2 separate regions of the Homo sapiens genome follow, and region 1 is linked to region 2. A link means that fine-mapping ties the variant in region 2 to the expression of a gene that starts in the linked region. Tissue or cell type: whole blood. Region 2 holds a variant in brackets; the other region holds the start of a gene. All regions are shown on one strand. Distances are from middle to middle.

Region 1 (5,000 bases), 22 kb before region 2:
AAAACCAAAAGCCCTGCCCTTGTCGGGCTTACAGTCTAGCACTTACCGCCAGTTAACCTGCAGGCTACCTGGAGCCCCGGGCAAGTCACCGCACCTCTGTGCCTCGGTCCTCAGCTGCCCAATGGGAGAATAAGCAGACCTGGCTCAGACATGAATCATGTGCTTGGTGTACTGCAGATGCCAAACTGCATCCCCACAACCCACCACGTAGACAGCAGACAGGGCTGGAAGTTGATTTTTAATGATAAAGTACAATGAAGGGAGGGCAGAGAGGCTAAGCCTAGCTGTCTGGGGTGCTGTGGTGGTGGTAGACTGGCTACACAAACTGTTGCTGCTGCTGCTGCTTCTTGGTGGCCGCCTTGCTGGCGAGGTCCTTGGCCTTCTCTGTAGCTGCCAGTGCCGTCTCCTTTGCCTTCTCCTTGGCTTCCTTGGCTGTCTCAACAAGTGTTTTGGAAGGGGCCTCGCCTGTCGCGAACGGCAGGTGGCTGCCTTTAGAAGATGCCTGAAAGACCAACCTAATTTCCCTCCCCCATGACACCAATCTCCTCTGGGCCAGGCTCCACTAAAAAGGTGGTATTCACCCTCCTCCCACCCCCAGTACAGACAAGGAGTCCCAGCTCAGAGCAGGGCAATGACTAACCCAGACTCCACGCCCGCTAGGCTGAATGAGCCTCTCCCTATGAGGAATATCCACATACCCAGAAACTCACCTTGCAGCTTAGCCAAGATATATTCAAAACCCTTCATAGTCTTGGTCACGTTGCTTTTGAATCGGGCAAGACCAAATTCCTGGCATGAGATGAGAATGGGAAGGATACTGAGTTGCCCACTGACCCCAGCCCAGCCCCAACACCGAAAGCACTGGGTCCCAGAGCCCCAGCAGCCCCAACAACACTGCTCACCTGGACAGCTCTGGAGACACCAAATAAGCTAGAGGAGACCCAGGCTTCCCGGCGGATTTCAGTCCAGCCACTGTTGTCAGAGTTCACACAGTAAACACATCGTTCCTCCACCACCTATGCAGAGGCCAACCACAATCGTGGAACAGTCTTTCATTTTGCCAACTTGCACATAAATCTGACTCCCTGTCACTTTTCATGAGGCGAAGCAATACAATGAAAATCCATTCCTTCCCCTGACTGCACCTCCAAGTGGCACTGACAGAACAAGAAGCCATAAATAAGGTCGTTTTGCTCTCGAAAACCTCTCTTCTGACTCTTAAACTAGAAGGCAAAAGGTCTCTCTCTTGAGATCAACAAAGGGCCTTCCAGCCCATCCTGCTCCTGGATTTTGTTTTGTGCATCTAGACGCATGCAGTGTTTTAGCCGCCTTCCACCAGCTGCAGCTCTGGAGCTTCCTGACAGTCCAAATAAAAACATTTGCCCGGCGCGGTGGCTCACGCCTGTAATCTTAGCACTTTGGGAGGCCGAGGCGGGCGGATCACTTGAGGTTAGGAGTTCGAGACCAGCCTGGCCAACATGGTAAAACCTTGTCTGTACTAAAAATACAAAAATTAGCCAGGCGTGGTGGTGTGTGCTTAGAAATCCACCTCTTCAGAAGGCTGAGGCACGAGAATTGCTTAAACCCAGGAGGTGGCAGTGGCAGTGAGGTGAGATCATGTCACTACACTCCAACCTGGGTGAGACTCTTGTCACCAGAAAAAAACAAAAAACAGAAAAAAAAAAAAGAAAAGCACTGCCTCCGCCACTCAGCATCACTCCTGTGAGTCCAACATATATCTGTGCCATAGATGCCAGATGGGAGCGCTTTGCATTTAGAACTTAGGACAACTCCGTAAGATAGGTACCCCTCCCCCACTGTATGAATGAGTCAAAGGACAGGTCCAGAGAGGATGGCCAGCTGAAAAGAAGAAAACCTGAGGTCATACTCTACAGCTGTCAACCCTCAGTAACCCAGACCTGCCTCCGGCCACAAAAGCTGCCTTATGGCTCTCTAGCCACATGTATCTGAGGAGCTCTCTATCTCGGGGGGAGGGGAGAGGGGGAGGTGCAGAATCACAACAGGAGGTGTCTCACCATCAGCCGGGCGTGGTTGATGTTCCAGGTGAAGGTAGTCATGGTCTGATTCTGTGGGTCCACAATAGAGTCCTCCAGGACGTACACCGAGTGAGCAACATTGGCAGGAAATAGTCGCTCGGCCCAGCGTGGCATCCTGTTGGTCTTGGTCAGGAGTCGCCGGGACAGCAGTTTCTGGTCAGGGGTCACCTCCCGGTGTACTATGTCTTCCGTCAAGACATGTTTGCTGCAGGTGTCAGGGTGAAGGTGACCCTCAGAAGCTTGCCCCTAAGAGACTGCCCGAGGGGATTCCCATTTGGAGGCTCCGGGCCTAGAGAGGCCACGCCTTCCCGTAACCTTGCAGGGTGGTATGTGCTATGGTTCAAACCAGAGTTAAGGGCCCATCCCAGGGCAAATTCCCACTCCCGCCATCTGACTGACCTGGATTCCTGCCTTCTAGCAGGAATGGACCTCATGATTTATTGCACCCCAGGAAAGCGCCACGGGCAGAGAAATAGGATTTCCAACTCCAAGATCCCTCCCAACTCCCATACTGCCGCCTCTTCTTGTCTCACCACACTGAGAAAAGAATCTTACACTAAGGTCTCAAGTAAACCACCACCCAGGCCCAACCTCCCTTCAGGACCTTGCAGGCCTGGCCTGGCCGCTTCCCCGATAAGGTCTACCTAGGATTCGATATCGAGTCCTTCCTGGTCCCAGTACTTGGGGGTTACCCATAATTCGATCTCCAGATAGCGAGATGGCGCGGTTTTGCTCTTCCAAATACCACGTACCTATAGGGATTCGGGTACCGCTGCCAGAAGGCGGCGAACACTTGGTCCCAGGAACTCCGGAGCACGCTCTGGCCCAGGAAATACTTCACCATCGTCCCGGCCGAAGCGGGCTCAGCACCCGCGCAGCATCAGGGGTGCGGAGCCTGGGAGGCACGCGAGGGCCGGGCCGGGCCGGGGCTCGGCGCACACCCGCCGCCAGGCTCGTAGCTCAGTCACCACCGCACCGCGCCCAAGCAGCTGCCGCCGCCGCCGCCGCCGCCATGAGTTGTCCGGCCGCGCGCCACTTCCGGCGCAGCCACACAGTAGCCACCGCTTCCGGCGCCCGCGCCACGTGACCTTGCGGCCCCGCCCCCTCGCCCTCTAGCCCCCTCCCGCGGGAGTCGCGGCGCTGCGGGTAGGAGCCGGGTTGCGGGAGACCCCAGGTTCGGTTGGGATTCCCAGCCAGAACGGAGCTTAAGCCGGGCAGGCGAGCGAATGACGGAGTAGCGAGCTGCACGGCGGCGTGCTGCGCTGTTGAGGACGCTGTCCCGCGCGCTCCCAGGCCGCCCCGAGGCTTGGGGTCTTCGAAGGATAATCGGCGCCCGGGGCCGAACAGCGGGGGCACACGGGGCGCTGCCGAAGTGCAAGGCCACGGCCAGAGCTCGAGCCCGACGCGCTGTCTGGAGTCGTAGGTTGGCGCCGTTTGGGGTCGGGGTCTGAGGCTTGGGCGCTGCCTGGGCCGAGCGGAGATCGGGGTTTGCCTCCCGTCCCCGCTCAGGACCCTGACGTGGCTGAAGCGGCCCCGGGAGCATGAGCGGGCAGCGCGTGGACGTCAAGGTGGTGATGCTGGGCAAGGAGTACGTGGGCAAGACTAGCCTGGTGGAGCGCTACGTGCACGACCGCTTTCTGGTGGGGCCTTATCAGAACGTGAGTGCATCCGGAGGGGCCAGGCACGGTGGGCGGGGGAGTGGGGGGCCGGTAATCTGCACCTATGGCCCCGATCTCTTCCCTCTCGTTGCAGACCATCGGGGCCGCCTTCGTGGCCAAGGTGATGTCGGTCGGAGACCGGACTGTGACATTAGGTATTTGGGTAAGTCCCCCGGCCATCTATTCTTGGGAGACTCATTCCTGAGGAGGTGTAGGTCCTGCCTATTACTGGTTGATTTGTGGCCTCACAGACCCATTTCTCATAGACCCGTTTCCTTATCTGGAAAATAGCGGGGTCTGGAGAACGTGGCCTTAAGTTTGACTCAGGCCTTACTCTTTAGGACACAGCAGGCTCTGAGCGCTATGAGGCCATGAGTAGAATCTACTATCGGGGTGCCAAGGCTGCCATCGTCTGCTATGGTAAGGGGGGGGGGGGTTTGGGCTGTCTCACAAGAAAAGATGGGTGCCAGGCTAGCCAGAGAACAGCCCTTGACCACTTGGTTGTCTCCTGCATGCCGCACACCAAGACCTCACAGACAGCAGCAGCTTTGAGCGAGCAAAGTTCTGGGTGAAGGAACTGCGCAGCCTAGAGGAGGTAGGTGAACAGACCTCACTAGAACACTAGGGGCTGGGGTTTTGTTGGCCTGTGGAGGTGACCCTTGTCTTCTGCCTCAGGGCTGCCAAATCTACTTATGTGGCACCAAGAGTGACCTGCTGGAAGAAGACCGGAGGCGTCGACGTGTGGACTTCCACGACGTCCAGGACTATGCAGACAGTAGCTGCTCCTCAGCCCTTTGGGGGGTGGGGGTGTGTGGCTGTCTGGGTGGATCAAAGAAAATAGGGACTGCCTTGGCTGCCAGGGCAAGGTGCTCTAGGAGGTCTTCCTGGCCTCCTTGAACTGTGGGGTCCAGGAGACTCCCTGAACTGCTAGCCCTCCCTTTTGTCTGTTTATCTAATTCTCAGGTATGAGGCTTTAGTCACTTCTCTTTACAGATATCAAAGCTCAGCTCTTTGAAACATCCAGCAAGACAGGCCAGAGTGTGGGTGAGTGCTGTGCTGGAGCCTCACAGCAGGAACATGCAGGGGCACCAGAGGAAGCTGAATAGGGCACAGAGGGCTGGGTCACTGGGAGATCCCAGGGCTACTGGCATTGGGCCCTCGCTGATCATCATTTTTCCTGCCAGACGAGCTCTTCCAGAAAGTGGCAGAGGATTACGTCAGTGTGGCTGCCTTCCAGGTGATGACAGGTGTGTGCTTCCCCAGCCTTTATGGAGACTTACTCTAG
Region 2 (5,000 bases):
CAAATTAGCTTCTTACTATTTGTCCTGGTTACAACCATCTCGCTACCCCGTTAGAGAGACAAGCACCCAGGTGAGCCATGACAGAGCAGTGAATTCTCCAAAGATCCTGTTCTTTGACATCCTAGAGGTTGAGAGGTTTTTGTTGTTTTGTGTGTGTGTTTTTAAGAGTCAGAGTTCTCACGATACTACCCAGGCTGCTTCTCAAACTCCTGAACTCAAGCGATTTCTGGCCTCAGCCTCCTGAATAACCGAGACTACAGGCATATACCACCACACCCAGTGGTTTATTTTTAAAATAGCCTTGGGTCCATAACCCATAAGATATGGAAGAGTGAGAGATCAATCTTTGGTTTATAAAGTGGAAGAAGAGCAACTTCAGGAAGGTGAGAAAGGAGACTGAAGAGCTAGTAGTTTCTAAAGCAAACCTATTAGTGGTAAGTTCATATGAATGTGAAAATTTGTTCCATTAAAACCATCCATGTTCCGAAGACACTGTGCTAAAAGAAATGAGCCAAGCTAAGCGAGGTGGCTCATGCCTGTAATCCCAGCACTTGGGAGGCTGAGGCAGGAGGATCACTTGAGCCCAGGAGTTCCAGACCAGCCTTGGCAACATAGCGGCAAGACTCCGTCTCTACAAAAAAAAAACAAAAAACAAAAAACCTGGGAATGGGGACATGTGCCTATAGCCCTAGCTACTCAGGAGGCTGAGGCAGCAGGATTGCTTGAGCCCAGTTTGAGGCTGCAGTGAACTGTGATGGTGCCACTGTAGTGCAGCCTGGGCAACAGAGCAATGCTCTGTCCCTAAACATTAAAAATGAATCAATGAATGAATGAAATGAGGTGGTCAGAAAAGGACAAATATTGTCCATTTATATGAAGTACATATAGTAGTCAAATTCAGAGACAGAAAGTAGAATGGTAGTTGCCAGGGGCTGTGAAGAAAAAGAAGAATGGGGACTTAGTGTTTAGTAGGTATAGAGTTTTAGCAGGGGAAGATGAAAAGAGTTCTGGAGACGGATGGTGGTGATGGTTGCACAAAAATGTAAATGAACTTAATTCCAGAGAACGGTACATATAGAAATGTTTAAAATTATAATCTGAGGAAGCTGTTTGTAAAAAACAAAAGCCCTGAAATTCAGATGTCAGCTGCAGAATCCTGAAATGATTCTTACCTGCTTTAATGTCACTTAGTGCAAAAAGGCCTACACGGGTATCTCCATTCACAGACCACTTCTGTGTTTCACAGTTGGGCTGGCAGCAATGATTCATGAACCGAGCATAGTTTCCTTTGGGACCAGCATCAATGATTCGGTCCTAGAATTCCAAAAGAAGCTACACATCAGACTTCCTGAGACCTCTGCTGTGGATTAAAATTTGACTATTCTCTCTAATAAGTTGGAGTTTCTATTTGTAAAGACTGAACCTCTCAGAGAAAAGATCCCAAAGAACTTTGGTTCTCAAAGTGTGATCCCTGGACCAGCACCATCACCATTTGGCAATTTGTTAGACATGCAAATTCCTGGGTTGTGCTTCAAATACACTAAAGCAGAGACTGTGGGGTGCAGCATTCTGCGTTATATATAACAAGGCTGCCAGGGGTTTCTGACTACATTGAAGTTTGAGGACCACTGCCCTACAAATAGCAGCTTGTCCCACTTTCTATTTAGGTAGTTTCAACCCAGATGCACATTAGAAATCACCTAAGGAGATTTAAATACTAATGCGGAGTCCCAATCCCAAAGTAAGATCAGAATATCTGGAAGTGAAGATCTCACAAATCCTAGTGCACAATTTGAGAAATGTTTACAAAGGTAAATACCAAGAAAGGGTTTTATTATAAAAACTAAGGCCAGGTGCGGTGGCTCATGCCTGTAATCCCAGCACTTTGGGAGTCCGAGGCAGGCAGATCACCTGAGGTCAGGAGTTTGAGACCAGCCTGGCCAACATGGTGAAACTTTGTCTCTACTAAAAATACAAAAATTAGCCGGGCGTGGTGGCGGATGCCTGTAGTCCCAGCTACTTGGGAGGCTGAGGCAGAAGAATCGCTTGAACCCAGGAGGCAGAGGTTGCAGCAAGCCGAGATCATGCCACTGTACTCCAGCCTGGGTGACAGAACGAGACTCTGTCTCAAAATAATTTTAAAAAAAAATTTACATAATCTTATCAGTAAAATAATTAAATATTTAACAATTTTCTCAACTGTAAAATAAAATAAAAAAGAATTATGTACTTTTCTGAGTTCAAACTTGTAATCCTGTAGAAAAAATACTCAAAGATATAAGCTCCAATTTTCATTGAATTGTTCAAAAACAATGCTAAAAGCTGCTGTATTGCCTCTGGCCATGAATACCCAGAAAATGAGCACTCTTACCTACTCCAGAACCCCAATCCAGCAATCCCAATGGGTATGGGAAAAGACCCTACCTTGGGAACTGCGTTACATGCCTACAAATACTATGGCTGGGACAACACAAATTTACAATCTTGTAACAGTGAAAACAGCATTTCCCATTACTTACTTTGTCTAGGGTGAGCATATAGAAATTAGTGATATCATGTTCTTGAGCATAGCGAATTCGAGCTCTGCATTCTTCTTCATCTATAAGCTCACCCACATACTCATTCACAAATTCACCCTAGAACAAGAAATACCTCCTGACTTAATGGCAAAAAAGGACACTGGTATCCAAATGTATACATTTTTTTAAAAAATTAATGAAAACATCACATTCTACAAAGCAGATTACATGAGTATAATTTTAGGCACA[C/T]ATAATTACTTTACGATCCCCAACTATTTGATAATGAGAAACACCTCCTTACTCCTACCACTGTCAGCAGCAGAAAGATTAGGATACACTGGATACTAAAGATCCTCCAGAATGGAAGATTAGTAAGTAAACTAGAGCGTCCTTATAAAGAGAGATGGATGGCCAATCTCTACCTGCCCCAGAGCCCGAGAATTGGCTTCCCCAAATAAACTATGTTCATCTTCCTTGGTGCTTGCTCTGCTCTATATTTCAAAGTACCATCCTCCCTATTCATTATGCTACAGTCACTCTGGCTTTTCACACGTGTTCACTCCTAACCTGCAGGGCTTTAATGCACCTTGCCTGGGTCAACAGCTACTTATATTTCAAGTCTCAATTTAAAATAGCCTCACAAGTCAAGAGTGATGGCTCATGCCTGTAAACCCAACACTCTGGGAGGATAATTTGAGCCCAGGAGTTTAAGTCCAGCCTGGGCAACATGGTTAGACCTCACCTCCACAAAAAATACAAAAATTAGCCAGGCGTGGTGATGCGAGCCTGTAGTCCCTGCTACTCAGGAGGCTGAGATGGGAGGATCACTTGAGCCTGGAAGTTGAAGGTTGCAGTGAGCGGAGATGGCACCAGTGCGCTCCAGTTTGGGCGACAGAGTGAGACCCTCTCTCAAAAAATAAATAAAATAAAATATAATATCATCAGAGACAAACTAGTTTCAGTTCCTTTGTCACACATCTCTAGAGCCCTTTATACTTTCACACTGGGAGATGATTTGTTCAATATTTCTCTCCCTCCGAAATGTAAATTTTATGAAAGTATAGGCCATATCTCTCGTCTTGGTTAGTGCATCCCCAGCACAATACCTGGCACATACAGTAAATATAAAAATAACTACTTAGCAAATGACTAAACGCCAACCCATATACACTACATTTCCTGGAAACCAATAAAATTCTTCAGAAAATGTAACCAGAATAAGGCTTATTTTATTAAAAAAAAAAAAAAGACTATACAATATTATTTATTTATTAGAAACTTAGAGATCCTGCCAAGTTTTAAGTTGAAGACATGACTGCATTTTCATCCAATAAGGCTTAACCTTCTTATCCTTCATGTTTCATGAAGCCAGACCTGTTTTTTCCTCACTAAAAATGTTTTATTAGTAGGTGGATCAATGTCTCTGTATCATGTGCTCACTGTCATCTCTCTTAATTACCAGCTGTAGGATATTCACAAAAAAGCAAACAAAGCCATAGCATCTCTATGAATGTCCCATTTTTTCCAACCTCCTACACAGTGACCATGATCAATACAAAGGACTTGGGAGATCAAAACCATCCATTCGTAAGCCTCTAAACGGTAGAAGGATATGGCAAGACACAACAATAAGGTTAATTATTAACTGTGTTATTTTCTTCTATGATGAATTTTCTAATGTCAAGGATCAATGATATCAAGCAACTGCAAAGAGGAGAAAGTATATGGTAATTTAGCTTTTTCTAACCTTTTTAATATCTGTTTTTGTCCGTAGACCCCAACCCCGCTGTAATGTGCGGAAAATTTCAACCTCTGGATATTGGCGCTTGGAAAAGCACTGGTTTTGACAGCGCCCTCCGGCAGGACACACTGTGGGGTGGCACTCATAGAGCAGCATGCGGTTGATGCATTCAGAGTCTATCCCACAGGGGTTCTCATCAGTAGCTTTACAGTTGCAACGGGGTATTTCAGATAAGTCTGCAGTGAAGATCTGTACCCTGCCAATAGGACGGTTTACCTGGAAAAGTAACACAAAGTACACCGCATAAAACAAGTCAGCAGAAGACAATTCACGTCCTGAAAAAGGCAAACTTTTTTTCCTTGAAGTTGCAGCCACATTTCCCATGATTTTGAACTATCAACACTTAGTTTCATATAAAAACAGAGCCTCACTTGACATACAAAATATGAACTCCACAAGAATTGCTTGAACCCAGGAGGCGGAGGTTGCAGTGAGACAAGATTTCACCACTGCACTCCAGCCTGGCCGATATGTTGAGATTCCATCTCAAAAAAATAAAATACGAGCCAGGTACGGTGGCTCACGCCTGTAATCCCAGCACTTTGGGAGGCCGAGGCAGGTGGATTACGAGGTCAGGAGATTGAGACCATCCTGGCTAACACGGTGAAACCCCGTCTCTACTAAAAATACAAAAAATTAGACAGGTGTGGTGGTGGGCGCCTGTAGTCCCAGCTACTTGG

The links. PIP is the estimated chance that this variant, and not a neighbour inherited with it, causes the effect.
Region 1: PRELID1 starts here. The variant in region 2 is fine-mapped to the expression of PRELID1 in whole blood (TOPMed, PIP above 0.99).

Annotation. Positions count from the first base shown.
Region 1 is chr5:177,301,887-177,306,886 of GRCh38, reverse strand. It overlaps PRELID1 (PRELI domain containing 1), which reads right to left and starts at 3,088. Exons shown (of 5, transcript NM_013237.4): 1 at 2,810-3,088; 2 at 2,037-2,262; 3 at 903-1,016; 4 at 711-789; 5 at 1-465. The coding sequence starts at 2,901. The coding sequence ends at 317. RAB24 (RAB24, member RAS oncogene family) reads left to right here and starts at 3,168. Exons shown (of 8, transcript NM_001031677.4): 1 at 3,168-3,715; 2 at 3,810-3,878; 3 at 4,057-4,135; 4 at 4,243-4,310; 5 at 4,391-4,490; 6 at 4,709-4,759; 7 at 4,900-4,962. The coding sequence starts at 3,599. It also overlaps a transcript of MXD3 not described here. RefSeq lists enhancers at 1,958-2,027, 2,038-2,107, 2,258-2,317, 2,338-2,387, 2,498-2,597 and 2 more and silencers at 2,828-2,967, 3,078-3,157, 3,208-3,277.
Region 2 is chr5:177,280,101-177,285,100 of GRCh38, reverse strand. It overlaps NSD1 (nuclear receptor binding SET domain protein 1), which reads right to left. Exons shown (of 23, transcript NM_022455.5): 18 at 4,267-4,536; 19 at 2,520-2,636; 20 at 1,173-1,314. Among named protein-coding and RNA genes, the nearest start is that of RAB24, 21 kb to the left of the region's middle. The variant C/T (reference allele first, on the strand shown) is at 2,769.